Linked DNA regions of Homo sapiens. The protein of the gene in region 1 purifies or fractionates together with the protein of each later gene. This does not show direct contact. Each region holds a gene or a part of one and is shown on either strand. Other genes may lie near its edges.

What was found.
Region 2: the proteins of PTP4A1 (region 1) and USP11 purify together in Homo sapiens (affinity purification with mass spectrometry, with the first as the bait; 2 studies listed by BioGRID). This does not show direct contact.
Region 3: the proteins of PTP4A1 (region 1) and CNNM4 purify together in Homo sapiens (affinity purification with mass spectrometry; 6 studies listed by BioGRID and IntAct, with this or other methods). This does not show direct contact.
Region 4: the proteins of PTP4A1 (region 1) and CNNM3 purify together in Homo sapiens (affinity purification with mass spectrometry; 6 studies listed by BioGRID and IntAct, with this or other methods). This does not show direct contact.

What each region holds. Positions count from the first base shown.
Region 1 is NC_000006.12:63,575,456-63,582,479, reverse strand, and holds part of PTP4A1 (protein tyrosine phosphatase type IVA 1), read right to left. Parts: intron 6,045-7,024; coding exon of another isoform or gene 5,949-6,044; 5' UTR 5,600-5,948; coding exon 5,495-5,599; exon of another isoform or gene 4,044-5,494; coding exon 3,951-4,043; exon of another isoform or gene 3,583-3,950; coding exon 3,452-3,582; exon of another isoform or gene 3,224-3,451; coding exon 3,149-3,223; exon of another isoform or gene 2,467-3,148; coding exon of another isoform or gene 2,424-2,466; coding exon 2,306-2,423; coding exon of another isoform or gene 2,269-2,305; 3' UTR 1-2,268. Other genes in the region: uncharacterized LOC128125822, read right to left, coding at 5,949-6,044. UniProt on the Homo sapiens protein: Protein tyrosine phosphatase which stimulates progression from G1 into S phase during mitosis. May play a role in the development and maintenance of differentiating epithelial tissues.
Region 2 is NC_000023.11:47,228,300-47,236,032, reverse strand, and holds the start of USP11 (ubiquitin carboxyl-terminal hydrolase 11), read right to left. Parts: upstream 3,025-7,733; 5' UTR 2,990-3,024; coding exon 2,814-2,989; intron 1-2,813. Other genes in the region: CDK16 (cyclin-dependent kinase 16), read right to left, coding at 6,973-7,013, 7,389-7,466.
Region 3 is NC_000002.12:96,763,892-96,770,915, reverse strand, and holds part of CNNM4 (metal transporter CNNM4 precursor), read right to left. Parts: intron 1-7,024. UniProt on the Homo sapiens protein: Probable metal transporter. The interaction with the metal ion chaperone COX11 suggests that it may play a role in sensory neuron functions. May play a role in biomineralization and retinal function.
Region 4 is NC_000002.12:96,819,246-96,826,269, reverse strand, and holds part of CNNM3 (metal transporter CNNM3 isoform 1 precursor), read right to left. Parts: intron 1,213-7,024; coding exon 1,069-1,212; intron 1-1,068. UniProt on the Homo sapiens protein: Probable metal transporter.

The DNA.
Region 1 (7,024 bases):
TACAAAATATTTGGATAAAAAGCAAATTTCATCACATCGTATAATGTACAGATAAGGTTTATAAAGTAAATTAATTTATTTTTAGCACCATATATACAATCCAAACACTGCAAATTAATTTCTTTTCAAACTCAAAAGATAGTTTTCATTAATCATGATGGCACATCCTCTCTCTCAATAAACGCAAATGCTGTTTTATGGGCTGTGTGGTAATAGTTTAACATTTAGTAATTGATTATATAAAATTATGTTCTCAAGACTAGGCTGCATTTCCTTTAAAAAAAAAACAAAACCTCAGGTTAAAAATTAGCCAAAAATTTGTGATTACTATCACAAATAATCCAAGATTTAAATAACCAAGGGCCTCCAGAGGCCCCTGTTCTTCCTTTTGCCCTGTCTAAAATCCAATGAAATATATTAAGTGTTAAACTGGTATGAAGAGGTGGAACTAAATTCTTTGAAACACAAGGTGGAGTATCACTTTTTACTTAAACTTTGAGTCCTTTACATTTATAACTGCTATTCAAAAAAAATTAGACAAAGACATCTAGATTTAGATTAACGTGATCAAAGGGATTATTGTGGATCATTAAAGGAAACTTAACATTAAGCCTTCATGTACCAAATACTAATATTTAAATTAATTTCAAAATCTATAAAGGTATGTAATTATTAATTTGCAAAGGAGAAAACTGAGGCTCAGAAGTTGCACAAAACCATGAACTAGTGGAACTGAGCTTTACAAACCAAGGCTGTCCTCTACTATACATTATTTCTCCTCAGTACACAATAATAAATTGGTTCAAAATTATCTAGACCTTTAAAAAGTATATAATGGAAAGTGCTTTTAGTATTAAAGTTTTCATGAATGACCCTAACAAATTTTGTCTAAAAGTTTACTAAAATGCTGACATCATTTATAATCCTTCATTTATTTGTAAAAAGATGAGGACACACATTAAGTGAAGTGCAATTCATTTTGTCTTCTACAAAATAAGTTAATTTTAAGCAAACCAATCTCAATGATGATAAATGCATGTCATTATTTATTTAGATGTTTCAGCTCTCGCACTAAGTTTTTACAAGCTGGTGAACACTGACAAAATTATTTCTCCCACAGAACTATAACCACACATCCCCAGACAGTATAAATATATGGTTGAACTAACATTAATACACATCACCATTTTATCAATTACATAATAAAACAAATTGTCAAGTATCCAAATATTAAGTTACACAGCTCAAAAGGCATATAAAATATTAGATGTCTGCTCAATTCATTAGCAGAAACCCATTTCTTTTTTTGCAAGAGAGGTTGGGAAGGAAAAAAAAAATCACACTTTCAAACAAAAATAAGTTGGTAAACACACTTCTGATAAGTATGGGAAAAAAATTACAAGAATTTCAGGAAGTTTATGATTACAATAACAAAGCATCTCTACCTTTTAAAAAAATATTTTACTAAATTAAAGAGCATATTCTACATGTTTGCACAAGACAAAGGCAACATTTTGCTAAAAATAATTAATAGCCCCCTCCCATTCTTTTCTCAGGCCCTCCCTGTTAAGTTGCACCTCAGAGTGCAAACATTAAATTAATGTAAGGCTTTTTTGTCTGAAGACATTAAAGACATGTGCTTCTGTACAACGTAGATTTTCAAAATGGAGGTTTTTTTAATACAGCACAAAGTGAGATACATGGAAACACGTAAAATAATCACTGTAAGACTTGGTAAAAAAAAAAAAAAATCAATGGTTAAGCAAACCTGACGTATATTGGTATGAATGTGGGAGATGTAAACATAAAGTGAGCAGGCAAATAACCATGTAGGCCCTACTTTCAATGTTTGAAATGATTGAAGGAATAAACCACATAAGGTCTAGTGTTCATAGTTCCTGGGATTTTACTTCTGTATGGTACTAAAAATATACAAGTATTGTGCTGGGTATTTTGGCACCTAATCTTCCTAAATTTCTTATGTATTGATAAGATTCTGGCATGGGAATAGATTTAACAAGTCATAACTCAATACTGCATGATTTGGGGAAAGGTCAATTGATACAAATGACAAGCACATTTTATATGCTGACAGCAAGAATCTTTTGCCAAGTATCCAAATAGGTTGACTGTAACCCAAATACAGAGGTTGCCAAATCTGTCTAGCTTGAGGCCTGGTAAAACTGCCTTTCAATACTCCTATGGAAGCTTCATTAGACTTACTAAGCCAACATGTTGGCTAATATGTATAACAAATTAGGCCCTATCTCAAGTTCCACTTCCAGTAGCATTAGGCACCCCAATTTTATTGAATGCAACAGTTGTTTCTATGACCGTTGGAATCTTTGAAACGCAGCCGCATTTTAGGACGATACTTCTCCAAATACAGAAGTTGCTTGCTGTTAAAAGCTCCACGCCGCTTTCTGGGAGGAAAAAAAAAAAAAAATGAAACAAGGCAAAAGCCCCCTACAGTAATATTTAGTGTCTTATAGACAACCATCACCTCTCTTGTGGCAATTTATCTTTTGATTAATTAGGCTGTGACCTGATGCAGAAAGGAATATGAACAGGCACATCAGTGTAAATGGAAAAAATCATAAAAAGTTAATTTTCTTTATATCTTCGTTTGAGTATTGGTTACAACAGTCGACTCACAAATCCATTTACACGTAAGTCCACGAAAAGACAAAACTAATTTATAGTGAAGTCAGAAGTTGCCTCTGGTAGCAGGGAAGATGACTACAAAAGCCACAAAGGCATGTTCTACAGCACTCAAAATATTCTATGTGTTGTATTGGATGGTTAATTTGGCTGTTATTGTCAACTGGTCTCCTTTGGAGACCTGTGCATTTTATTGTATCTTTAAATGTATCTTAATTATACCTCAATAAAAATACAAAATAACCAACATATTCAATCAAGTATTTAAAGCAAAACAATAATTCAAAAACTCTTGTTGGATTAGAATCTTAGTAATATGAGCAACTGCATGAAATGCAAAAAAGAATGTAAGATCTTGATTTCCTGGTTTTAATACTATCTCAAAAAATAATCATAATGATTAAATGGGCTATTAGACTATTAAACTCACTGACACTCAACAAGGAAATGAAAGAGAGTACAAATGAAAAGAGAATCCATTACTTACTGTCTTATGAATTGTACTGCATCTTCGTATTTCATTCCACCTTCAATTAATGCTAGGGCAACAAGTACTGGAGCTCTGGTGAGGTAAGAATTTTGATAAATAGTTTTTTCAAAATCAGATCTTTGTAAATTTATTTCTCCAAACATTCCCCAACTCAGAAGTATTATCTACCACCCTTCCTATTTAAGTAATACCTATGACAAATGTTGACTTTATATTAAAAAATTATAAGAATTTTTCAAGTTTCTGTATTTTCATTATCAATAGATTTTTACCTAGAATCAAATTGATAAATTCATTTACCTCCCAAGGCCTGCAACGCAATGAACAGCAATACAACAACCAGGTTCTTCACGAAACTTAATTTTCACAAGACTTAACCAGTCATCAACAATCTGGTTGGATGGTGGTGCACCATCATCAAAAGGCCAATCCTAAGTCAGAAGAATATTTAAACATTTTAGATCATTAATATAAACACTGTAGTAATAATTCTAAATTTCTAACATGGAAATGTTTTCAAAAGCATTCTCATTTTAATGTTTAATCAAATCTTATTAAACCCTGTTGTCTACCAAATGTGACTAAATGCTCAATCTTTACAAAAATGTTTCACAACTTCAAATCCTTGCTTAGCTTTTCACCTTTATTTAGAAATTAAGATTCTGCACAATAATATAATATTTGTTTTTAGCTTTTTGAGGTCTATTTATGACTTAAATAGATATTTATTTGAATTTACTATTTGAATAAACTTTTGTAGCACAGCACCATAAACCCATAAGAACTGTTAAATACTTACAAGAACATGGATACCTTCTTTCTCCACAAGAGTAGTGTCATAAGTTGCTTCACATACTCTTACTATTGTGGTAACTCCATACTTCTTAAGTTCCTGGATAAAACGTACATTAAAAAAATCTTAATGTTTAACCACATCACTATAACTCAACATTTTATATTCTGATCATCTCTGATCAGTAAGTATGCTGGTTAACAGAAGATCATTTAAAGAATGCTAGAATCCATTTATGTTTAACACAAAAGCAAATTTTGTTTTAAGTGACAATGCTAGAATATAAAAAGAAAAGTGAATATTAAATACCATACATATTTTTAATAAACTGGAAAAGTTTTCCTTCTTTTGTTTAAATTGTGTGCCCCCTTCATACACTGAAGTTGTTTACAGTCATGGTAATACCGGATTGGGATGAAACATTAACCAAAAGGGGCTAGCAGCAATGCAGACAAAGGTAAATGTAACTAAAGGCATTATTTATAACTAATCGGGTAATCTGACTTCACTCAATTATACTCACTCCTTAAACTTTACTGATTTACATTGAATGAAGTCTTAACTACAGTAAAAAAGCCCACATACCATTTAAAACTACAGGCTTCAAAATGCATTATTACTAATTACATATTACTAATATAATATACTATTATATACACTATATAGTATATATTAGTGTATATATAATATATAGTAATAAAAATTAAAGTACCATTAAAGTATTTCCCAGCCAGGCGTGGTGGCTCACCTGAGGTCAGGAGTTCGAGACCAGCCTGGCCAATATGGTGAAACTACATCTAAAAATACAAAAATTAGCTGGGCAAGGTGGCGTACGCCTGTAGTCTCAGCTACTTGGGAGGCTGAGGCAGGAGAATTGCTTGAACCCGGGAGGCAGAGGTTGCAGTGGGCTGAGATCATGCCACTGCACTCCAGCCTGGGTGACAGAACGAGACTCCATCTCAAAAAAAGGAAAAAAAAGTATTTCCATTATGTTCTGAGAGGCCTATTTGCTATTTCTTAACAACTGTAGGTATTTATAAAATAAAACATGTGCACATCCCGATATATTATTCAGCATTCAATTCCTTTCTCCTAGTAAAAAGAGGCAGGTAGAGTTTTGGCTACATAGCTACCATTAGGAAGGAACAGAATTTGTAGTTGAAAATTGGATTCTAAGCATCAGATGGGGTTCAAGAAAAACCAACTGGTTTATGGCATTAGTCATTAGGTTAAGCAGATATATAAAAAATCCATAAATGGCAACCTTTCCCATGTAAATTTCTTACAAGATAAGTAAGAGCTATACTGTTTTACTGTCCACATACCAATTCAAGCAAACTCAGGTACAATAACTATTAACTCAAGCACATGCCCTTCTCAAAATGTACAAATATACCTCTAACCTATAGAAGACATTGACATTTATTTCTGGGAACTGGAATTGTAGGTATATCATCTCATTTTTTCCAAAGTAGTTTTTATTTTGTTAGCTATAAGTCCCACTATTATATTGCAATCAATTTAAGCTACTAAAACATATCAAATCTTACCTCTATAAATTTGTTTAAGGTCGCATTGGTTGGATTGTGTGTAATAAGAAATCTCATGTTCTTGTATGTGACTTCCACAGGAGCTGGGCGGTTCATTCGAGCCATGTTAATTTAGTTAAAAAACACTCAATAGGGTTATGAAATAATTAAAAAAATTGAATACAGAAATGATGCAAAGAAACTGAAGTCTACTTCAATATACTCCACTTGAAATTCTCAGTGCTTTGAGTATGAAGTTGTAAGTAATGATAAGTGAAATGAACCTCCTAACAAGAAGCAGCAATTCTTCAATCCAGTAATACTGAGGCCAACAGAAAAGAAGTGCACTGAGGTTTACCCCATCCAGGTCAGAACTCTTGTAAAATGCTCTGTGGATTTCAATTCAACACTTCTGTGTCCAGGATAACCACTCTTATGGGGGCTTCTTGGTGGAGCAGTAATCAGTTTCTACAGTTCACTTGTCTGCATAGAGGTCGTGCTGTGCCTGGCAGTAATCTCCACTGCCCTTCAGAAACTCCATAAATGTGTGACCAAGAACACCACAGAATTGCTGTTTAAAAGAAAAAGACAGAAAGAGAGAATAAGTTATTTTCCAATTCAAAAGAAATACATTAGGGTTTTACACTATTTAAGTACACAACTATTTTTCTAAAGCAGGGCCTGAGCCGCTTCATCGACTTTTACTTGAATTGCAAAACTCAAGGGGTGAGTACAGATTAAATCAATCAGCATAAAACAAGCAGTCAGATAGATTAAACTGAAATCCATGATCTATTACCAAGATTCCTCAGAAAAAAAAACCAAACCCATTGTTACATTTTTGTGAAATTCATATATATATTCATATATATTCTATCTAGTTATATTCTCTGTATATATACTATCTATATATAATATATAATTATATGATTCTAATAATTATCCCTTTCGATAGTTGTTTTCTTTACATTGTAATTACATACACTTTATGTTGATTTTTCCAACTAACAAAAACATTTTTACACATTAATACAAACTCCAGATAACTCTGAAGTTATTAGTCTTGCATAATTTACTTAACTCATAAACTGAAACATCTAAGTTCTTTTCCAACTTTATGCTTTTATATCCTTTTCTTAGACTGATTTAAGTCCTATATTTAGAATCTCACTTTATCCTTAACAATCTGTTATCATTCCCATTAAACTGAAGACGAGGAAAATGAGTCTCTGAAAATCAACTTGTTATGTGAAATATCATAAGAATGTATGCTTATGAATCTAAAAAGGAAACAACTCTCATTTATAACTGTAAAGAAAATATTCATAATTTTAATAATGTTCTTTTGTATTTTAAAACCAAAATTTCACATATACAACTCAAAACTGAAATCCAACTCAGAGAAGGCGGACAAAGGGATGTTGAAGGTGGAAGTGGCAGGTCTCAAAAGCAAGGTAACTACTGTAACCAATAAATATAAACAAATATGAATGTATTTATATTTTCTCTAAGTTCCCCCTTAAGAACTAAACCATTTTTATGCCAATATCA
Region 2 (7,733 bases), on another chromosome or scaffold:
CAGTACTGGTGGGGTAATTTTAAAGCGTATTATCAAGGATGACAGGATGTCATGTCCTACCAGTGACACAATCACAAGGCTACAAAGGTAGGAAGAGGCAAGGATCAAAGCCTCAAGGCCCTTTTGAACATCTTCAAATGAGTTACAAAACACTGTGGTTATTTTGTTTATTCTCAGGATGAAATGAGGCTTTTTCTTGCTGGAAAAGTGTGACGTAATGGCAGAAAAACACGGCTTGGGTTTGTATTCCCGATTTGGAAAATCTCAACTCATCTCCCCAGTAACAGAGATACACATTTCACTGGTGTGGTTATTAAAGAACTCTGTAGTGAGTAAACCTCACTCGAAAAAGCCCTAAGGTTAGATGTGTTTGAGGAACAGCAAGAGTCCAATATGGCCGGCCTGGATGGAGACAGGGAGGGAGTGCGTAATCAGAGGAGAGATATGGGAAGACATCAGAATGCAAGCAGGAGACCAGCTTCATAAAGGCTTGCAATTCATTGTAAGGATTTTAGCATCTACGCTGCAAGAGATGGGAAGCTGTTAAGAGTATTTTGAGGAATGGCTGGACATGATACATGTTTTAAAAATAATTACTGCATATGTAAAGAGGAAAATGGTACCTTTACAGTTGAGAAAGCTGGCCAACACTACCATAACCAAGTGATCAAGGTTAACATCACCAATGATGCCATGTGGATACCATGTATTACCCGATGCGAAGATAAGGGCTCACAGTATGCATCCAGTAGAATTTTATATATATGTATTCCATATATGTATAAAGTGAAAGCTTAGACAATACATACCGCTTAGGGATGCATACAGCTGTGGTAAAACATTAAAGAAAAGGAAGAGACTGTTAACTCAAAATTCAGGATAACAGTTTCCCATGGAGCAAGGAGGGGAATTTCCATCTGGGAGGGGCACAGAAGGATTTCTTAAGACAGTGTTCTGAATCTTAACATGGATGGTGAATTCACACGTTTTTATTTATTATTTAATTTTTAAACTTTGAAATAGATTGAGAAAAATGGCAAAAATAATACAGAGAATCCCCATATGTCCTTCATCCAGATTCTCCAAATCTAATATTTTACTCATTTGCTCAATCGTTGTTTCTTTACATGCATTTTTTGGTATTTTTATTTATTTTAAAATGGACAAAAATTGCATATATTTAGAGTGTACAGCATGAAGTTTTGACTTATGTATACATTGTGGAATGACTAAGTCAAGGCAATTAACACATCCATTACGTCACATACTTATTTTTTGGGGGGTGGTAGAACATGTAAAATCTTCTCTCAGTAATTTTCAAGTATACAATGAATTTATTAACTATAGTTGTACAATAGATCTGAACTTATTTTTCTTGTCTAACTGAAATGTTGTATCCTTTGACCAACATCTCCCCAATTTTATTTCCCCTCGCCATATATAAATTTATATATGCTAATTTTTCAGGCATTTGAGAATAAACTGCTTACACGATGCGTTCTTATCCCTAAATTTTTCAGTATTTCCTATAAACAAGGATATTATTTTTCACAGCCACAATGATCACAATTATTAGTAGTACTAGTATCTACCCACTTTAATAAAATTTCACCGACGTTTCCATTGCCTTTTACAGTAAAAGAGACAAAAATAATCTTATGATAAAAAATTGATTTTTAAAATAATTTTTTTTTCTGTTCCAGGATCCAATCGAGGATCACATGTTGCATTTAGTTATCATGACTCGTTAAATTGCATTAATTCCTTCAATTTGGAACAGTTCTTCAGCCTTTGTCTTTCATGATCCTGACATTTTTGAAGAGTGTAGGCCGTTTATTTTAACAGGATGTCCGTCAATCTGGGCTGCGTAAATGTTTTATATAATCTTTTTAAGTCTTACGTATTTCACAATTAAAAAACGAGATGCAACTCGGCGAGAAATAAAATGAACTCAGAAGCAGTAAATTTCAAGAAGGACTGTTTAGCAAGAAATCAGTAAAACAAGCCGATTTATCAAAATTCTATTTTTTAAAAAAACGACTTTTTCTTGATTCTAAAAACAAAACAGTACCAACACAGAAAACCAATTAAACATGGAAGGCCCCTCCGGTGCTAATCACCTGCACGTTCTCTCGACTCGGGAAGGCTTCCGCCAGAATCAAAAACCACGGCGCGTCATAAACTTTGCTTATTCGCAGGCGCCATTTTCTGCCTCATAGGCACCACCTCCCCTCCACTGTCGTCCCTCGGCCTCAGAGCACGCCCCTCAGCTCACGTCACCAACCTAACCTCGTTCCCAGGCTCCAGGCTCCTCCCCCCTCCCCCACGGAGGTCCCCGCTCCCTCCCTCGGACCGTTCGGCTCCATCCCGCTCTTCTGCTGACGTCACAAAGCTCGCCTCGTTCCCAGCCGCCCCGGAGCAATCGGAAACCGCTCCTCGCCCCCAAAAGTTGCATTACGCAGCGCAGGCCGCGCCCCCGCCTTATGTAGCAGAACCCACCTTCTTCCCAGGTTCCTACGCAGTTTCACTACGCAGGCCCGGCCCCACCTCCAGGACCGAAACTGGTCTCATCACAACAAACCCCATTTTGTTCTCAGGCGTCAGACTGCACCACACAGGCCCCGCCCCTTTTCCAGACGTTGCGATTCATTCAAAGGCACTTCCCCGCCCCTTTAGCCCGCTGTCCCGCCGGCCACTCCCCCGCCCCCGCACCCCGCAGCAGCTTTCCCGCGGCCCTCGGCCGCCGAATCCCCAGCGGTTGTCAATGCCCCCACCGTTCCCTCTGCCGAGGCTCCACCGCAGCCCAGCCTCACCAGCTTTCGCCGGCCCGCAGTGGACGTTCTCGCCCACTCTCGCCGTTTTCTATCTGGCGCCACTGGCTGTCCAGGCCTGGCAGCTCCTCGTGCTGTGGCTCTCTATCCTCAGTCACCGCCGCTGCCGCCGCCACAGCCGCCGCAGCAGCAGCTGGATTTGCTGCGACCGTCGCCATCGCCGTCCGTTCTCTTCTACAGCCAACGCAGCTGTGCGAGATTGGAAGACGCCCCTCAACAGCCACTTCCGGATTCTGGTCCCGGAAACGGAAGCAGAGCCCCCCAAACAGTCGCGGGGCTACTGCCATATTGGAAATGGCCCCGTGCACAGACGCGTCGAAGGGCTAGGTGGGGTAAAATCTTCAGTGGGAACCAAGAAAGACAAAAGTGCCTTGTGGGGTCCTAACGCCCTGTAGACTTAGGGCACAGGTGGCATGGAAAGTGGAGGCTGAGGTTCCCGAGGTGGGCTAGGACTCCTACCCTGGGAGCAGTGTTTTTGTTAGCCTGATCAGAATGCCCTTCATTGTACCATCAAAACCCAATGCAAAAGAGGTTTCCACCTCCAGAGACCCACCGAGGCCTGCGGGCTGTTGTTTCTCTTCCTGAACTAGATTTATTCACTAGACAAGGTGTTGAAGACAAGTTAGCCCCAGGCCCTATGTTTGTTGGAGTCATAGCAATCATAACTAAACTAGCTGTCCGCCCAGTTTAAGTGCTTTATTGGACTAAAATAGTAGCCTCAGGCAGCAGGTACTGTCCTTGTCACCCATGGGTAACAATGGGGACGCTGAGTACCAGAAACGTCCCTCAGCTAATTAGTGGTGGAGCTGCAGTTTAGACTTGAGAAATCTGGTTTCAGAGCTGTGACCTTAAACACCAGGCCAAACATTCTCCAACCGTGTGGTCCCAGTGGTCCCAGCCTGTCTACCGGTCCAAAAATCCTCTTGGGGTTTCACAAAATGAAAACTATTTTCACAATACTTTTTCACTCTCATTCTCTCAGGGGTGTACAGTGTGATTATCCAGAGGCTTCTGAATCCAGAGGCTATATGACATAAGCAAAAACTCTTTTGAATATCTTAAACTTTTAAGAACATAAAGGAATCCCGAGACCCAAAGTTTGAGAACCCTTGGACTAGGCCAGGGTCTCTCAACCTCAGCACTGTCATTTCTTTGTTGTGGGCATTGCAGGATATGTAGCAGCATCCCTGGCCTCTACCTACTAGATACCAAGTAGTACCCCTCAGGACAACCAAGTATCTCCAGACATTACCAAATGTCCTTTGGGGGAAAAATGTCTCTGGTTGAGAACCACTGCTCTAGGCTATGCTATTCTTTCCTCTGCTGGGGCTGCCAGCCCCGTTGATGATGACTTTAATTTCGAACCTCCCTTCCCCCTCACAATTTCATAATTTACCTATTTTCAGTTAATCTCTGCGGGGCAGGGATTGTGTCTTTATTACTGTGATTCCAGCCCCCAGCCCAGACCTGGCATAGATGAGGGGTCACAAACTCAGTTGTGTAAGCTCTGGGTGAGGAAAGGGAGCAGGCCTTTCACTTAAGGGTCCCCAAAGAAAGTGGCATTTGAGTTGAGTCAGACACATGGCAGATAGCTGCTCTTCAAGCCCAGTTGAATCTTGTCAGATTCTCTGAATTGATTCTCCCCATTGCCCCTCTGCAGACTCCCCCTCCCCATTTATCTGGGCAGCCAGGTAAATCCAAGAGACCTCCTTTCCCAGCCCTAGACCGTTTTTTTTTTTCCACCTTCCAGAGGCCAACCTCTGCCCACACCAGTGACCCTACCACTTCCCAGAGCAGTTGGGTGAGTTCTAGACCTTTTAAATCCAGCCTGGCAATCCTGTCCCCCTTTGCAAGGCCCTCCTTTTCCCATCCTCCCTTGCTGCCAGAAGTGGCCATGTCATCTGATTCTAGCCAAGAAATGGCACAGGAAGTCTGCTGAGGAGCTTGTGGAAGTTCCAGCCGTTAAAAGAACACAGACAGGTAAGGAAGGTGTTCTGTCTTCCCTGCTTGCTTTTCCATCTCTGGGGACATGGCAGTCATCATGGCACCATGAGGCTGCAAGCTGAAACATCACTAAAGTGCTTAGAAAGACACGGTAGAGGCTGGGCTTGGTGGCTCACACCTGTAATCACAGCACTTTGGGAAGCCGAGGTGGGTGGATCACTTGAGGTCAGGAGTTCGAGACTAACCTGGTCAATATGGTGAAACCCCATCTTTACTAAAAATAAAAAATTAGGTGGGCGTGGTTGTGCACGCCTGTAATCCCAGCTACTCAGGAGGCTGAGGCAGGAAAATCGCTTGAACCCAGGAGGCAAAGGTTGCAGTGAGCCAAGATTGTGCCGCCACATTCCAGCCTGGGCGACAGAGACTCTGTCTCAAAAAACAAACACACACAGTAGAGTGATTAGAAGTTCATGGGCCCCCACCACTGGGCTTTAGTAAACAGCCACTTAATTAGGGTTGCCATTACTTGCAGTATTTGCCTGGCCCTGCTCACCCCCTCTTCTGCTTAGAAAACAATCCTTGGCTTTGCCCAAGATGGTGGGACTGGGGCTGGAACTCACAGGACAAAGAAAATAAGTTTCAATTATCCTCATATCTGAGGGCAAACCCCAGGTTGTGTCATTGATCCCTGGCCTCTTGCAAACTCTCTCACCCATGCCCATGGTTTCTGTTACTTCCTGGACACTAATAATTGAAATTTCCAGGTCCATCTATGGCCCCACTGCTTAATTTGATCCATGTATTAAAGGATTTCTCTACCTACTCAGTGGTCCAAAATCTACCCCCTACCGTCCTGAACATTCCCTCCTCTTCATGGTTTCCTAGTCAGATGGCCATACTGGGCCTTTGCCTCATCTTCCCATCCATGGTTCTATTGGGCCGTCCAGTGTCTTTCAAACATCGTCTCTCCACTTCCCTGCCTCCACCCTCTTATCAGGCTTCCTCATATTCCTGGGCAAATCTAACTCCCCTTTCTGCTTCTCAACCCATCAACACCATTCAGCCTGCCCTACCTGCTTCAACTCCATGTTCTACTGTTACATATGCAATACCTTAGATGCCTTTTTCATAGTCGTGACGTGTCCCTGGCCCACTCCCAGTGTTTTCCTAGACAGTGGTGATGAGGTATGAATTCTCCAAGGTCCCAATAATCACCCCAGCTCGGCCACCCTCCACCCCTACAGGGATTTGCAAGCAGGCTTTTCACTTTAGACTTTTTAATATTTCATACAGCGATTATGGTGCATTCAGGAACCCAACCCCCCAAACCCACTAGGAGGGCTCCCACCCCTGCCCTCCCACCCCATTTCAGGGCCCCAGGGCTTAGGGTGGAGGAAGGGGAGGTAACCACCCATCCAGGGACTGACCCTGGAGACTGTCCCTGCCCTGCCTCACCCTCCCCAGGAGATAGGGGGCAACACCTGGGCACAACCCCTCACACCCCCCTCCCCCAACCCTGCTTGTGCACATATGCACATTATGGCTCCTCGCTGAGCTGGTCAGTTCCTGGCAGGGCCCCTACCCAACAGCACCGAGTGGGATGGGAGCAAGGGGACTGGGCTGGGGAGACCCTGAGAAGGAAGGAGGCCCCAGCTACGGGACTGCAGGAGAGAAAGAGTGGGGCCCCCCACCTTGTCCATTTCCCAGAGTCTCTGGTAGTCCCCAGATCCCCCTGCAACTGGGGATGGCGGGCGGGGGTAGGAAGGCGAGTGGCTGTGGCATGCTTTCCCATAGCCAATCCCAGGGTCTGGTGATGATCAGGGTTCCAAATAGGGGCTGTGTCCCTGTCTCTGAAAGGCTGGGAGCAGGGCTTCATTGCACAAAATACTGTGGGAGGGCCACACGCAGGGGGTGGGGCCCAGCCAGTCTGTATACAGAGATATTGCATTTAAAAAAAACAAAAATCTCATTTAAAATAATTAAAAAAAAAAAAACAATGAATGAAACAAACAAAAAAAGGCCCACACAATATGAGGCAGGTGGGGCAGGCAGGAAAGCAGGCAGAGGATGCCTCAGACTCAAGGCATTGTCACCATCTTGTCTGAGTCGAGATCCCCAGCCTGGGCTAGCTCTGGACCCCTGGCTGGCCGTGGGGTAGTGGTCCTGGGGGCTGGTATGATGGGGGGTAGACCTGGCCTCAGTGTGGGAGGCTGGCACGGCCATGCTGTCCACCGGCAACTACCAAGACAGAGACAGACAGACCAAGTGAAGGAGTGATGAGAGCTTTGTTAGCACCCAGCAGACAGGCCAATGGGTGGGTTGACAGGCCAATGGTGGGGTGTTTGGGCAGGCAGCAGGGGACAAGTGGGCAGGTGAACATGGCTCAGGCAGGTAGGCAGAGAGTAAGCAGGGAAGATGTAGTTGGGGGCTGCCCTGTGAGGGGTGTGGCATCCCTCCAGCCGCTGCCTGCTGGGGCCTCGGTCTGTGGCTTAGAACTCGGTGTCCACCACGCGGAAAGCTGGCCTGCCTGTGGGGGAAAGCAGAGCAGATGGCTGTTGGTGGGTAAGCAGGTAGGTGGGTGGGGCAGGGAGGAAGACAAGGGGCTATACCTACCTGAGTCAGGCATCGACGAAGACCGAAGGCTGGCCTCCTTTTGTAGCTGAATCTCCTTTAGTGCAAATATGGAAGTAGCTACAGATGGGGGAGACATAGAAGTGGGGGATGACCCATGAGGTCATCTAGGACCAGCCCCATATGACCCCATGGGAAGAATTAGAAAAAGCTGCCCCTTCTCTGAGAGGCTTGACCTTTATCTGTCAAACAATTCCATACACAAACCAGCTACAACCAGGGAAGATGAAATATAGACTATTACATGACACAAAGAAATCATTATTAACTTTGTCAAGTGAATTATGGTATTGCAATTACCACCTGTTAAGTCTAGGTGATGGGTGG
Region 3 (7,024 bases), on another chromosome or scaffold:
AGAAGGAACCAGGAGGCTCTGCGAAAATCAGTCACCAAGGCAGCGACAGAGGCCTGGCCCAGGCTGCCTTTCCATACACACTCTCCATGGCTGCGCGGCCTTTCAGGAGCCAGCGCTCAGTGCAGGACAACCATGCTGGCCCCTGCCCTCAAGGAGACTGGAGGCCTGTAGTAGCGACTCCTTCAGAGGGGCCAGGCTTCCTTCCCCTCAAAGATGTCCTTGCTGTTCAGTCAACCAGGTTCATGTGGGAGGGGTGCAGAGAGAAGGCACCCAGGGATCCGCACCGCCAAGTCCGTCTAGAAAAGGAGGGGAAGCAGCCCGGGAGGCCTGAGCCACACCCCCAAAGCTGCTGCGAAGGACGGTGAGGCTCACCTCTCAGCCTTCGGGTCTTGTCCAAGCTCTCCCAGGGCAACACGTACCAGAGTGGAAAACGCCATGTCTACCCGCCCTAGCAAATTCCGCTGAAATGTCTTCCCAGACTTTTACTTACGAGACAGGCCTCCCCTTCCCAAGGGCCCCCTGCTGATCCTGTAGGGCCATTCCCTGATGTTGTGCTCCTGTGTATTCACCCATTTTCAAGGTTAAACATCTGCTCGGTGCTTCCCGTCCTGACCAGAGGTGAGCAGAAAAACACTGGAGCGGGATTTCCTAGTTAAAAATACGAGACCTTTGAAAAGTAAACACCAGAATAACTAAGAACCTATCAGGGCCTCGATGCACAGCATTGCCTTCCATTGCACAAACAAGAGCTCTGAGAAGAGAACTGTCAAGTGAAGACACGTGAGTGTCCTCTCAGTGCTGGCTCCTCTTTGGGAACCCGCCCATAGGCTGCATGGGGCCAGCCAGGAAGGAGGTGCAGCTGCCCACTGGCTGGCACGCACCAGGCCCCTCCACGTGCTCATGTTCCCTTCCCACAGCACTGCACTAAAGGGAAAGTGAGAAGGAGCCTGGCCACAGCTCTGTCAGCTGTCCCTGCTGGGACCTCTGCCTGCACCCGGAGTATTAACCAGCTCCTGTCACTCTCAGATACACCTGCCCCCAGGCAGCTTCTTGAGATCAAATCACCATATTGAGGCTATTACCAGGCAGGGCTGACGGAGAACCGGTGCAAAGCTGCCTTCGGGCACCACTTGTCCGAGGCTGCTCTCGCTGGGCACCCCACAGCCTAAGGTCCCATCCCACAGTCTGTGCATGGTCTTCACCCCATCTGACCCTCCAAGGAGGCTCCCGAATAGCGTGCCCCCTTGGTTCTCTTCGTCTCCATCAAGGAGTCGCCTCAGCCTGGCTTTTACACACTGACACCCCCTGCACTGTCCTTTCCTCTCTCACACATTCTTTTTTTTTTTTTTTTTGAGACAGAGTCTCACTCTGTCACCCAGGCTGGAGTGCAATGGCGCGATCTCGGCTCACTGCAACCTCCGCCTCCCGATTCAAGCTATTCTCCTGCCTCAGCCTCCGCAGTAGCTGGGATTACAGGCACCCACCACCACGCCTAATTTTTGTATTTTTAGTAGAGACGGGGTTTCACCATGTTGGTCAGGCTGGTCTTGAACTCCTGACCTCAGGTGATCCACCTGCCTCAGCCTCCCAAAGTGCTGGGATTACAAAGCCACTGTGCCCAGCAGCTCTCCATTCTGCCTGCTCTTGGCCGACTCCTTTTTTATTGAGACGGAGTCTCGCTCTGTTGCCCAGGCTGGAGTGCAGTGGCGCGATCTCGGCTCACTGCAAGCTCCACCTCCCGGGTTCACACCATTCTCCTGCCTCAGCCTCCCGAGTAGCTGGGACTACAGGCGCCCACCACCACACCCAGCTAATTTTTTGTATTTTTAGTAGAGACAGGGTTTTACCGTGTTAGCCAGGATGGTCTCGATCTCCTGACCTCATGATCCGCCCGCCTCGGCCTCCCAAAGTGCTGGGATTACAGGCGTAAGCCACCGCACCCGGCCTCTTGGCTGACTCTTAAACCTTTTAGCGTTGTCCTGGCCTTGCTCCTCAGCCTCACGTGGGCATTTTCCCCTGCATGCCTGCCTAGATGTTACTGCACACTGGTGTGGTCCAGGGCCAGCAGCATGGGCATCATCTGAGAACCTGTCAGAAATGCAGACTCTCGGGCCACACCCAGACCCACTGAGTTCAAGTCTGCATTTCAACAAAATGTCCAGGCAGTCGAGTGTGAGAAGCTCCAGTGTAAACAATGCTGGGCACGGAGAAGGAGCTCAGCAACGGGTCACACCATTATTATGACCACCACTTACCTCCCTCTGCCCTCACTAAACTGTCTCTTCGTCCCCCTTTCCCGATTGCAGTTAAATGACATAATCAACCTGAATCCCAAGCTAGAAACCTCAGACTTTCACAACTACTTCCGGGCCCTGACTCCCAGATCTCCACAAGGATCAACGAGTCTAGTTACTCTCACTTCAGAAGCATCTCACAGGCCTGCCCTCCCTCAGCCCCACGGCACCCTATCTGTGAGCTCTGTGCAGCTAGGCGTTGTTCACGTGTCTCTCTCCTTGGTAGACTGTGAGTTCTGTGAACAGGGCAGTTTTATTCATCTCTGATTCCCAACAGCCTGCACAGTGTCTGACACAGAGGCTTCAAAACGGTCACTGTTGGTTGAACAAATGGATGAATAAGCAGGTGCGGATGGGAGGGTGGGGTGTGGAGGATAAGTTACTTAAGGTGTGTCAGATAAGAGGAACCAAAAGTGAATGCAAAAATCATGCAGTGTTTTTTCTCAACTTCATAAAGTTGTTGCGGGAATAAAATTAAGTCAGTGGGAAAATCTGACACAGCCTAGATGAAAATATGGGTGTTTTGTTGTTGTTGTTGTTTCGTTTTGTTTTGTTTTTTGAGACAGAGTCTTGCTCTATCGCCCAGGCTGGAGTGCAGTGGTGCAATCTCAGCTCACTGCAACCTCCGTTCAAGCGATTCTCCTGCCTCAGCCACCCCAGTAGCTGGGATTATAGGCATGTGCCATCATACCCAGCTAATTTTTGCATTTTTTTAGTAAAGATGGGGTTTTGCCATGTTGGCCAGGCTGGTCTCGAACTCCTAGCCTCAAGTGACCCACCCAAAGAGCTCCCAAAGTGCTAGGATTACAGGCGTGAGCCACAGCCAGGAGGATTTTTTTAATGAAAATATTTCTAGCTTTTCCCCACCAATTTATACTGCACTACCTTGCTGAGAGGAGGAGTAACAGGTCCAAGGCCACCTCACAGGTCAGTGACCAGGCTGGCTGGAGTTACACCCAGGTCTATACAGGGTCTAGGTGGTTATAAGGTGGGTGGGGAAAGATAAGGTGTTTAAAGATGAGCTAAGTACCTGGGAGGGAAGGAGTGTCCCAGAGGGTGAGGCACAGCTAGAAGCTGGAAGGTGGGCTGCAAGGGGGGTGCAGAGCTCTGCCCTCTTCCTTCATTACTTAGCTTCAGGGTCTGGGAGAGTGGTGAAGGCAAAACACAAACTGGGGCAGGAGGAGCTGGAGGTGGCTTTGTTCTGAGATTCCAAGGTGGACAAACCCACCCACAACACCCAGTACTGCAAACAGTTCCAGGCGAGGTTTAAGCGGAAGGGCCAAGGTTCAAATCACAGGAGACTCTCAGGCCTGAGGGCTTGTCTCACCAACTCGATGATCTTACTCCTGTGGTCCTGCATCACCTAGCATCACGTCTTGCACGCAGCATGGGGTTCCACAGATATCTGGCACTAACTGCCGTGAGCTGGGAGACAGAAGTGCTGCAAGGCTGTACCCCTGCCTTACTCCTAGGGACACTCGGCCCCTACCTCTGCATCGATGCCCCTAGCCCGTCTCTAAGTGTGTAGGAGCACATTCATGACTCATCTAATGAGGGAAGCTGTGTAAACCCCCAGTGGCCAAAGACCACTTACTGGTGGGGAAACTGAGGCACATGGAGAGGAACCATGCATCACACTCAAGGCCCCAAACTCTACTTCTCAGTCCCTGACATGTCATCCCAGGCACTCCTCCTGTCTGTCCTGTGTGGCTGGAACTCTGAACCCGGTAAGTGCACAACACCCATTTTTCTTTGCACTCATCAGCTCCTCAGAATTCTAACACTATTAAAATGGGAATGATCCTCTGCCAAAACAGACAGGTATTCATTCACTCACTTACTCACTCAGTGCCATGGATGGAGGCCTTACTATGTGCCAAGAGCCATTCTAGGGGCTAGAGATACATTGATGAGCAAAACAAAGAGACCTGCCCTTTGAAACTTATATGCCAGTGGGAGGAGACAGACAGTAGACAACACAGTAAATCAGCAAATTACATAGATGCTAGAGAGCAATGTGTGCTACGAGAAGAGAAGAAATCGGCACAGGGCAGGGGAGATTAGGAAGTTGGGGTGGGATGGTGGGTGCAGTTTTAAACAAGGTGGCAAGAAGGCCCCACTGAGAGGTGACCTGGGAAGACAGTGAGCCATGCTGACTTCTGGAGAAGAATATTCCAGCCCAAGGAAACAACCAGGGCAAAGGCCCCATGGTGGGAGCATCCTGGTGTGTTTAAGAACAGCAAAAAGGGCCAGGCACGGTGGCTCACACCTGTAATCCCAGCACTTTGGGAGGCCGAGGTGGGCAGATCGCTTGAGGTCAGGAGTTCAAGACTAGCCTAGCTAACATGGTGAAACCCCATCTCTACTAAAAATACAAAAATCAGCCAGATGTGGTAGCATGCACCTGTAATCCCTGTTACTTGGGAGGCTGAGGCACAAGAATAGCTTGAACCTGGGAGGTGGAGGTTGCAGTGAGCCGAGATCATGCCAGAGTGAAACTCTGTCTCAAAAAAAAAAAAAAGAAAAGAAAAAAAAAAAGGCCAGGTGTGGTGGCTCACACCTGTAATCCCAGCACTTTGGGAGGCTGAGGTGGGTGGATCACCTGAGGTCAGGAGTTCGCAACCAGCCTGGCCAACATGGTGAAACCCCATCTCTACTAAAAATACAAAAAATAGCCGGGCGTGGTGGCGGGCGCCTGTAATCCCAGCTACTCGGGAGGCTGAGACAGGAGAATCGGAGGTGGAGGTTGCAGTGAGCCGAGATGGTGCCATTGCACTCCAGCCGGGGCAATGAGAGCGAAACTCCGTCTCAAAAAAAAAAAAAAGAAAGAAAGAAAGAAAGAAAAAAAGAACAGCAAAAAGGCCAGTGGGGCTTGCCAGAGAGTCATCCATTGTTCATTCATTTGTCCAACACTTACTGGAGACCCGTCTCTTTACCAAGCACTGAGTGGTGAAAACACTAAGAAGGCATGGCCTCTACCCTCAAGGAGCTTATAATGCTGGAAAGGGGAAAGAAAGAATACAAAGGCCCTAAAAGAGGATTACTTGTGGGGCAGAAGGACTCTGGCAAAGCTAGGCTCAGGACCCTCACCCAACCTGGGGTGGAGGAGGGTCCAGGACAGACCCTCAGAGAGAGATGCTGGGCTAGACAGTTGCCCCAGCTCTGACTCTGGTGCTGTTAACAATGCCAGCTGAAAGGCTGGGCAGGGTGGCTCACACCGGTAATCCCAGCACTTTGGGAGGCCAAGGCGGGTGGATCACCTGAGGTCGGGAGTTCAAGACCAGCCTGACCAACATGGCGAAACCCCGTCTCTACTAAATAAACAAAATTAGCCAGGGGTGGTGGCACATGCCCGTAACCCCAGCTACTCAGGAGGCTGAGGCAGAAGAATCGCTTTAACCCGGGAGGTAGAGGTTGCAGCGAGCCGAGATTGTGCCATTACACTCCAGCCTGGACAACAAGAGCAAAACTCCGTCTCAAAAAAAAAAAACAACAACAAACAAACAAATAAAACAATGCCAGCTGTTCTAACTTTGCTCACTTGTTTCTCTTAGCAAAAAAAAAAAAAAAAAAAAAAAAAAAAAAAAAAAAAAAAAACCATTCCCAACACCAGACTCCTAAACTCTTTTTTTTTTGAAACAGAGTCTTGCTCAGTCGCCCAAGCTGGAGTGCAGTGGTGCGATCTGGGCTCACTGCAACCTCTGCCTCCCGGGTTCAAGCGATTCTCCTGCCTCAGCCTCCTGACTAGCTGGGGCTACAGGCATGTGCCACCACGGCTGGATAATTTTTTGTATTTTTAGTAGAGACGGGGTTTCACCATGTTAGCCAGGATGGTCTCAATCTCCTGACCTCGTGATCTGTCCGCCTCGCCCTCCCAAAGTGCTGGGATTACAGGCATGAGCCACCGCGCCTGGCCAAGAAACTCTTAAATTGCAGATGTACACTAGGTGTGTGCTGTGTCCTGGGTAATCTCAGACTAAGAAGGTGGACGCCAGATTGGAAGGTCTGGAAGAGGCCACGCTGCAGGGAACCCGGTGTGCAATGAGTTAAAACTGGTTTTCCAAGACCTCTGAGAATGGGGAAGTAAGTGATGGCATAAAGCCGCAGGGCCTGTTCATTTGTCGGGGGTGGGTAGAGAGGGGGGACTATCACCATCTCCAGGGCGGCCTGCTGTGCTGGGCAGCCTGTGTGCAGTTCCCTGGGTTTACCAGCACTGCTCCAGGGCTTGGCCTCAGGCTACTGGCCTCTGTTAAGCAGAGTTTCCCGGAGTAAACTGAACCTGGGGACTCTGGCTCAGCAGAGCTCTGCTACGGCCTAAGAGATGCTAGCTCTGTTTTCCCAACTTAATGAAAGGGCACTTGACAAGACAGAGCCCAAAGACAGCCCTCTCAAGACCCAGGAGGCTCCAACCCAAGAGAGCTCAGCCCTGCTGATCAAGACTGGGAGACTGGTCAGACCAATCCATACTGGTTGGATCCAGATTCCAAATGAACTGATGGGAAGGTGCTACTGGGTGTGTCACAAACCATAGTCCCAAACACCACAGAGGCAGTGAGGAGGAAGTTGCCCTGGAGGGTCCTAATCAGGTTCCCAACTAAGCAATAGGAGAAGTCTTCAGGTCCCAAGGCTTAGGGTGGGGGTGGGGCACAGATCCTCACTGCTTTTCTGTCCCAGGCTCGGGTACCTGGGAAAACCTGATTCCTGGGTCTGCACTCCCAAAGCCGCCCCCA
Region 4 (7,024 bases), on another chromosome or scaffold:
CTGTACTCCAGCCTGGATGACAGAGCAAGACCGTCTCAAAATAAAAAAAAAAAATTAAAAAATAATAACAGCCTCTCTGGCCACTGAAAAACTTCTCACTATAAAGCATGTATTCAAGGATTACCAATGCAAATGGGCAGCAATTAACCTGGAGACCCCATGCCTATGGCAGTCTCAAGAACGGAACTAGAGATGCTATGTTTGAAAATCGACGCATGATTAAAGCGATACTTCTGGAAGCATGCAGGGCAGGCGGCCCGGCCATGACGCACAGACTCTGTACAGCCCTGCAGACCTCAGCCACCATGCTAACAGGCGGACACTTTTACCATGCAATCAAGGGCACGGGATCAGCTGCTTTGGGAAGACTTATTTCCACCCCCTCCAGTCTCTCAGGCTGGAGCGCAGTGGCGTGATCTCAACTCACTGCAACCTCTGCCTCCTAGGTTCAAGCGATTCTTCTGCCTCAGCCTCCTGAGTATGTGAGACTACAGGCACGCACCACCACGCCCAGCTAATGTTTGTATTTTTAGCAGAGATGGAGTTTCACCATATTGGCCAGGCTGGTCTCGAACTCCCGATCTCGTGATCTGCCTGCCTGGGCCTCCCAAAGAGCTGGGATTACAGGCGTGAGCCACTGCGCCCAGCCAGGAAGACTTTCTTCATGGCAAACAGTGGGTTCTTTCAGGGGACATTTCTGTAATGTACAAAAGAACCTGCAAAAACAAAAGCACCTAGGGAGACAGAAGACTGGGAAAGGCCCATGAAGGGCAGAGCTCTCTCAGTAATGGAGGAAACTAATAGGACTGCTGCTAATGGAGCCCCAGGTGAGCCCTGGGATTGCAAGGCCACCGCTGGCACAGGCAACCATGCTTGTGTGGAGGTGCAGGCGTGAGCCCTCCTGCAAGGGGGCTCTCTGCCAGCACCCATGCAGGGCTCAGAAGGGGGCCTGGCTGTGGATCTTGCTGGGTTCCAGCAGCACAGAGGCCCACTGGCCTCTGACGCAACATACGCCTGGGGAAGTGTGCAGGCCCAGCGGAGACAGAACTGCCAAGAGTCTGGACTCACGGTAGTCTTCAGACTCGTCCAGGATCTCGGACCTGATGATCTCCTCGATCACGTCCTCCAGGGTGACCAGGCCCAGGACCTCGTAGAAGGGGTCGCCTTCACCCTCGTTGTTCACCTTCTGCACGATGGCCAGGTGGGACTTCCCTGTGGGGGGAGGACACTCATGGAACAGCTTGCTGGGCCCCCCCCAGTTTGATTCATCTCCCCTGGTATAGGCCCACCAAAAGGACACGGCTAACGTTCATGCTCCTACAACGTGCCAGGCACAGAGCCACACTCTTTTCTAGGTTTTTACTTAAGACTCCCAGCGTGATTATGAGAACTGGCCTTATTTTCACACAGGTTGAAAATGAAGCAGTGGGCTCATGCCCATCTGCACAAGGCCCCCCAGGCAGAGCTGGCAGAGCTGGGATCCAGCTCCAGGTCCGTGCACCTCCATGACATGGATGCAGTTTAGACAAGGATGCCTCCCTCCAGTGGAGAACACAAATGCCTCACACATCAGCCAGCCTGCACATGCAGGCTAACAAGGGCACTGACTCTGGAAACACAGGCTCTCCTGCGACAGTCCACACGGGGCAGCTGAGTGGGGCCACCCAGCCTGACTGTCCTTGGGAGGATTTCCTAAGTCTTTTTCTTCTTAAAGTAAATATATATGCTGTCCATCCTACATAAATGTGCATGGCTTCTTGTCCTTCTTTATGATAGAAATTAGAAAGAGATAGAAAGATAGACAGACAGACAGATAGACTGTGTGTATGTGTGTGTGTCTGTGTATCTTTTGGTTTTCCTAATTCTTAAAGCTGCCCATTAGGGGCTGTCAACTAGGGGATGAGAAGAGTGGTAGCTGGCCACTCGGGAGCCAAGCTGTGCAGGGAGGAGGAGCACCAGGCTGAGATTTTCCACCTTACCCTATATGTCTTTCTCAGGTTAGCTTCCTATTTGGTTTGTTTGCTTAGTGAGGGAATGTAAGCTTGGAAAAAAGCCCAAGTCTCAGAGTGCTGGGGAATGCTGGGGAGGCTTCAGGAATTTACTATGTCTCAGATAAGTGCTTTTCATCCACACTACGTTAGACCCGTCTGAAAAAAACAGAATGCAAGCCACCTAAGTAATTTAAAATCTGAATAGCTGCATTAAAAAAGTCAAAAGAAACACATAAAATTAAGTTTAATAATATATTGTAAGTAACCCAATATAGTCAAAATAGCATTTCAATACGTAATCAATACAAAAAATATTCATAGACATTTTGTCTATGTTGCACTCTCTGAATCTGGTGTGTTTTATGCTCACAGCACATCTCAACTCAGACTCCACCTTTAGGTAGCACAGCCCCAGGTGGAGGGGGCTGCCGGCCTGGGCGGCACAGGTCCAGGACAGGGGGATGGGAGCAACTCATTCAACCAGGCCCTCGTTTGTCACTAGTGGAAACGCTGAGGGGTAACTGGCCTGGACCTGCCTGTGAGGGGGTATCTGCTTCAAGACTCTCCTGGGAAATCAAACAGTCAAGTTTGTGTTGTTGTGTGGATCATACTTTACATCCCATGGGCTTGATTAAATAAAGCACAGTTCTCCAGGATGCTTGCATTGCCCTGGACAAAAAGCTGGAAATGGCCACATGAATCGTCTCCCCGCTTTCCGGGAGGAAGGCTAGGGCCCCTGGAGATTGCCACTCAGCCCTGCTGAACCGCGTTTCTAGACACCTTCTAACCCTCAGTGCTTGTGCTGGGTGCCGTCTCTACATGGGCCACGGCTGCCCCACCAGAGTACAAACCTGTCAGGCCAGGCCAGGCCAGGAAGGCCAAGTGCGACATGTGGTTTTGGTTAATGTCTTGGATTCCAGCACCAAAGCCCAGGATCTAAATGGCCACCTCGGCGCAGAGAGGCCTCATCTCGGCTCCCTTCTCCCAGGAAGCCAGCCCCTTTGGCAGGTTTCCTACAGAAAGGGACTCACTCCTTTGCTTTCAAACTTCTCTAGAACAAGGCACACAATTCTCCATGGCCTGCCACACTGGGATGATTCTATCACGAACAGAAGAAAGCAGGCCCTGGAAGATCCCCTGGAACAGTGGTCGTGTGACTGAATCCCAAGAAGAATGTCTGAGGGGTCTAGATGGCAGCCAAAGATGACAGCAGAGGGACAGAGCAAGGGCAGCTGCAGGGACTCAAGGTCACCTCTCATCTGCTGAGCCACCAGAGTGGAACCACTCACACTGATGCCTGCCCACAGGCCAGCTCCAAGGAGCCACGAGCAGCTCACAGTGTGTCTTGCCAACGTCAAGCAGAAAGCCCTGGAAAAGCTTCAAGTTTAATTTTAGTTAGCAGGCTCCAGGGTACCCCAATTATTTGAATGCCAAAGTACCCTTTCATAATGCCCAATTTCTATGATGTTAATAACAGTTGGAATACCTTCTCTCTTCTGTTTTCTAAAGCACCTCAGTGAATGAATGAATACTGTGAGAAAGACAAAAGTAGTGTGCTGACGCTCCTCACTGCTGTTGGAGCTGGTCAGACTCTTTTCCGCATCATGGCAATCATCTGGCTCCCAGCAGACAGGAAACCAGAGCTGGGTTCCTTTAAAGCAGAGACTGCGGCCAGGCACAGTGGGAAACACCTGTAATCCCATCTCTTTGGGAAGCTGAGCTGGGAGGATCGCTTGAGGCCAGGAGTTTGAGACCAGCCTGGGCAACATAGGGAGACCCCAATCTCTACATAAAATTAAAAATTAGCTGGGGATGGTGGTGTTCACCTGTGGCCCCAGCTTACTCAGGAGGCTGAAGTGGAAGGATCACTTGAGCCCAGGAGGTAGAGGCTACAGTGAGCCACGATCACATCACTGCACTCCAACCCAGGTGACAGAGCAAGACTCTGTCTCAAAAATAATAATAATAATGTTCTTGGCCAGGCGCAGTGGCTCACACCTGTAATCCCAGCACTTTGGGAGGCCGAGACGGGCGGATCATAAGGTCAAGAGATCGAAACTATCCTGGCCAACATTGTGAAACTCCATCTCTCCTAAAAACATAAAAAAGTTAGCTGGGCGTGGTGGTGCACGCCTGTAGTCCCAGCTACTCAGGAGGCTGAGGCAGAAGAATCACTTGAACCCGGGAGGCAGAGGTTGCAGTGAGCCAAGATTGTGCCACTGCACTCCAGCCTGGCAAGAGAGCAACACTCCATCTCAAAAAAAAAAAAAAAATAATAATAATAATAATAATGTTCTTTTGTACATTAAGGTCCCTTACTTAACAATGGTTCAAATTACAATTTTTCAAATTTGATGGTTCAAAAGCAATATGCATTCAGTAGAAACCATACTTCAAACACATATAACCATTCTGTTTTCACTTTCAGTACAGCAGTCAATAAATTACATGAGATATTCAACACTTTATTTTAAAATAGTTTTGTGTTAGATGACTTTGCCCAACTGCAGGCTAAAGTAAGTGTTCTGAGCATGTTTAAGGTGGGCCAGGCTGAACTATTTGGTTTGGTAGGTTAGATGTATCAAACACATTTTTGACTTAAGGTATTTTCAACTTACAATGGGTTTATCAGGACATAACTCCATTTGTAAGTCAAGGAGCAGCTGTCCAAGTTATTTATTATGGCTCCAAAGCACTCACTCTTCCTGGTGACGTCTGCACAAAATAATCAGCACGTCATCTCAAGTTGGCACTGATTGAGGGGCGCCTTGCTGGGGAGGTTACCTTGCCCCCAGACTACAAAGTTCCCTAGCAGACACAGCAAAAGAAACAAGACCCGGAATGAAAGCTGCCAAGATGGCAGGGACTCCAGCTCCACGAAATTCAGAGGCTCATTAGCTTGGCAGAGAGATGGAAAGGGAATCGATTTTTAAAACCTCACACGCCACAAAGACTGCAATATGCCCTTTGTTCCTAAGTGGAGGAATGCTTAAGAAGGTTAGGAAGGACAAAAAGGACTTTAACACGGAAAAAATAAAGATATTTGCCAAAGGACTGCACTGAACTAGAGAAGCAGAGAAAAAAGCTCCGGGATGTCACCAGAAAGACATGGCCAGTCTGCCCACGAATGGCCCTCACTCACCACAGGAGCGGGGAAGTCAAGGGGGATTAAAGAGCTCCCCATTTAACCTCCAGGTTCCAAAAACCTCCCCCACTGTCTTCCAAGGGGATCCTTTTCAGCATGTTGTCAGGCAGCTTTTAGAAAGGTCTGTTTCAAGCAGAGGCACTCAACCCCAAATCCTCCTGCATCGGGCTGCTTGTGACCTGCCTGGAGGCCACCCAGCCCAGAACAGGAGCAGCCCGGACCCTGGCCTCTCTAATTTCCTTCCTAGCTACATTTCAACCTGCATTTCAATCTGAACCTACTGGACTTGCCCATCTTAAAACCAAACAGCAGAAGGCCTCCTCCCCTGTCCCACATCCTCTGCCAGTCACTTCTCTCTGCAGCCACACTCTGTGGAGGGCTGTCTACATTGGTTCTCGTACCTTTCCACACCTCATTCATTCCCCAAATGGCTCCCTTGCCGTGGCACCAAATCTGCTCTTGCAAAGGTCAACGGCATCCTGTTTGCTGGCCTCCTCTCCTGTCACTCACCTTCCCTGGGAAAGTGGTCTCTTCCCTTAGCTTCCAGGACATTCCGCATCTCGGGAACTCCTCCTTCCTTGGTCTTGCCTCCTCCTGGCCAGCTTCTCCTGGGCTTCCCTTGCCCCTGACACACCTGTGCTCCTAGGAGGCTGAGGCTCTCTGCCTCCCTCCCATGACTTGAGAGACACTCCTATTCTGCCTCCCACTTGCATTTCACATCAACGGCCTGCTAGGAGTTTGCCTCTTGGGACACTGCACAGACACAAATTCAATGGCCAAAACCTGCTCCCCACGCCCGGCCCTTAGTGAAGGCGCACCGCCACCACACAGCCAGAAATCTGGGCCTCATCCTCAGCTGCTCCTCCTTGTTGCATAGCCCTGCTGCCAGATACCAATCTTCCCAATTCCACCTCTGCTGCCCTCTTGGGGCTCCTCTCCAGGCCTGCCATGAACCTTGTTCAGGTTATCATCCCCTCTCACCTGGATCCCTCACACCGCTGGTCTCCCTGCGCTGGTGTCCACAATTGTTACTGATCTGTAAAAATAACTGATGCTGCTGCTTGATGCTCATGGCCCTGGTGATCAAGTACAAGTTCCTTACACAGCACACAAGCCCCCCCGCCAGGGGACATCCTGCCTCTGCGCTCCTTCCCAACGAACATGAACATTTTTTATTCTTCCCCAAGTGGAATCCCCAACCACCCTGGACCAAGCTCATCCATCGCATCTGAAAGACAAGACCATGGCAGCGAAGATCCTGACACTGGCGGTTTGGAAAATGAAAGACCACTTTCACCAGCCTCATCCTGAGCATCATGACCAACTACAGAAGTTGCCTTTAGTTCTGAACAGGACAACCCTTCCATCTCCGCTGCTCCAAATCTCTGCTTGGTGACTGCTCAACTGTTGAAAGCAGCAGCCAGCTGAAGCCAGACACCAGAGTGAGCTTTTTCTTAAAGAATCTAGAAACGTGAGTGCTTTGAACACCAAAAGGACAGCTACAGTCTTCCACTTTTTCCCTAAAAAAAAGGAAGTCTGGTGACCTGCCTAGAAGAACAGAAATCTGCAATTCCAGATTCACCCCTTGCTCCTGGATTGGCAAACAGCTCACCTACCAGCAGAGCCTGTCCCGGAGTAAGAACCACCTGCTAACGCCAAGCACACAGCATATGCACGCCAGGCACTGGCCAAAGTGCTTGATGAGTCTCCCCCCGCAGGTCTGTTTACCCACTCTTATCACTAACAGCAGAGGACTTTGCACCACAAGAGGCTGAGCAGCCTTCAGGGCCTGGGGGCAGGCAAGGGCAGGATGGAACCTACTCCGCTGATTCCAGGGTTGCAATGTTGGCCACCACACCAGGAGAACCACCCCTGCCTCAGGGGCTGC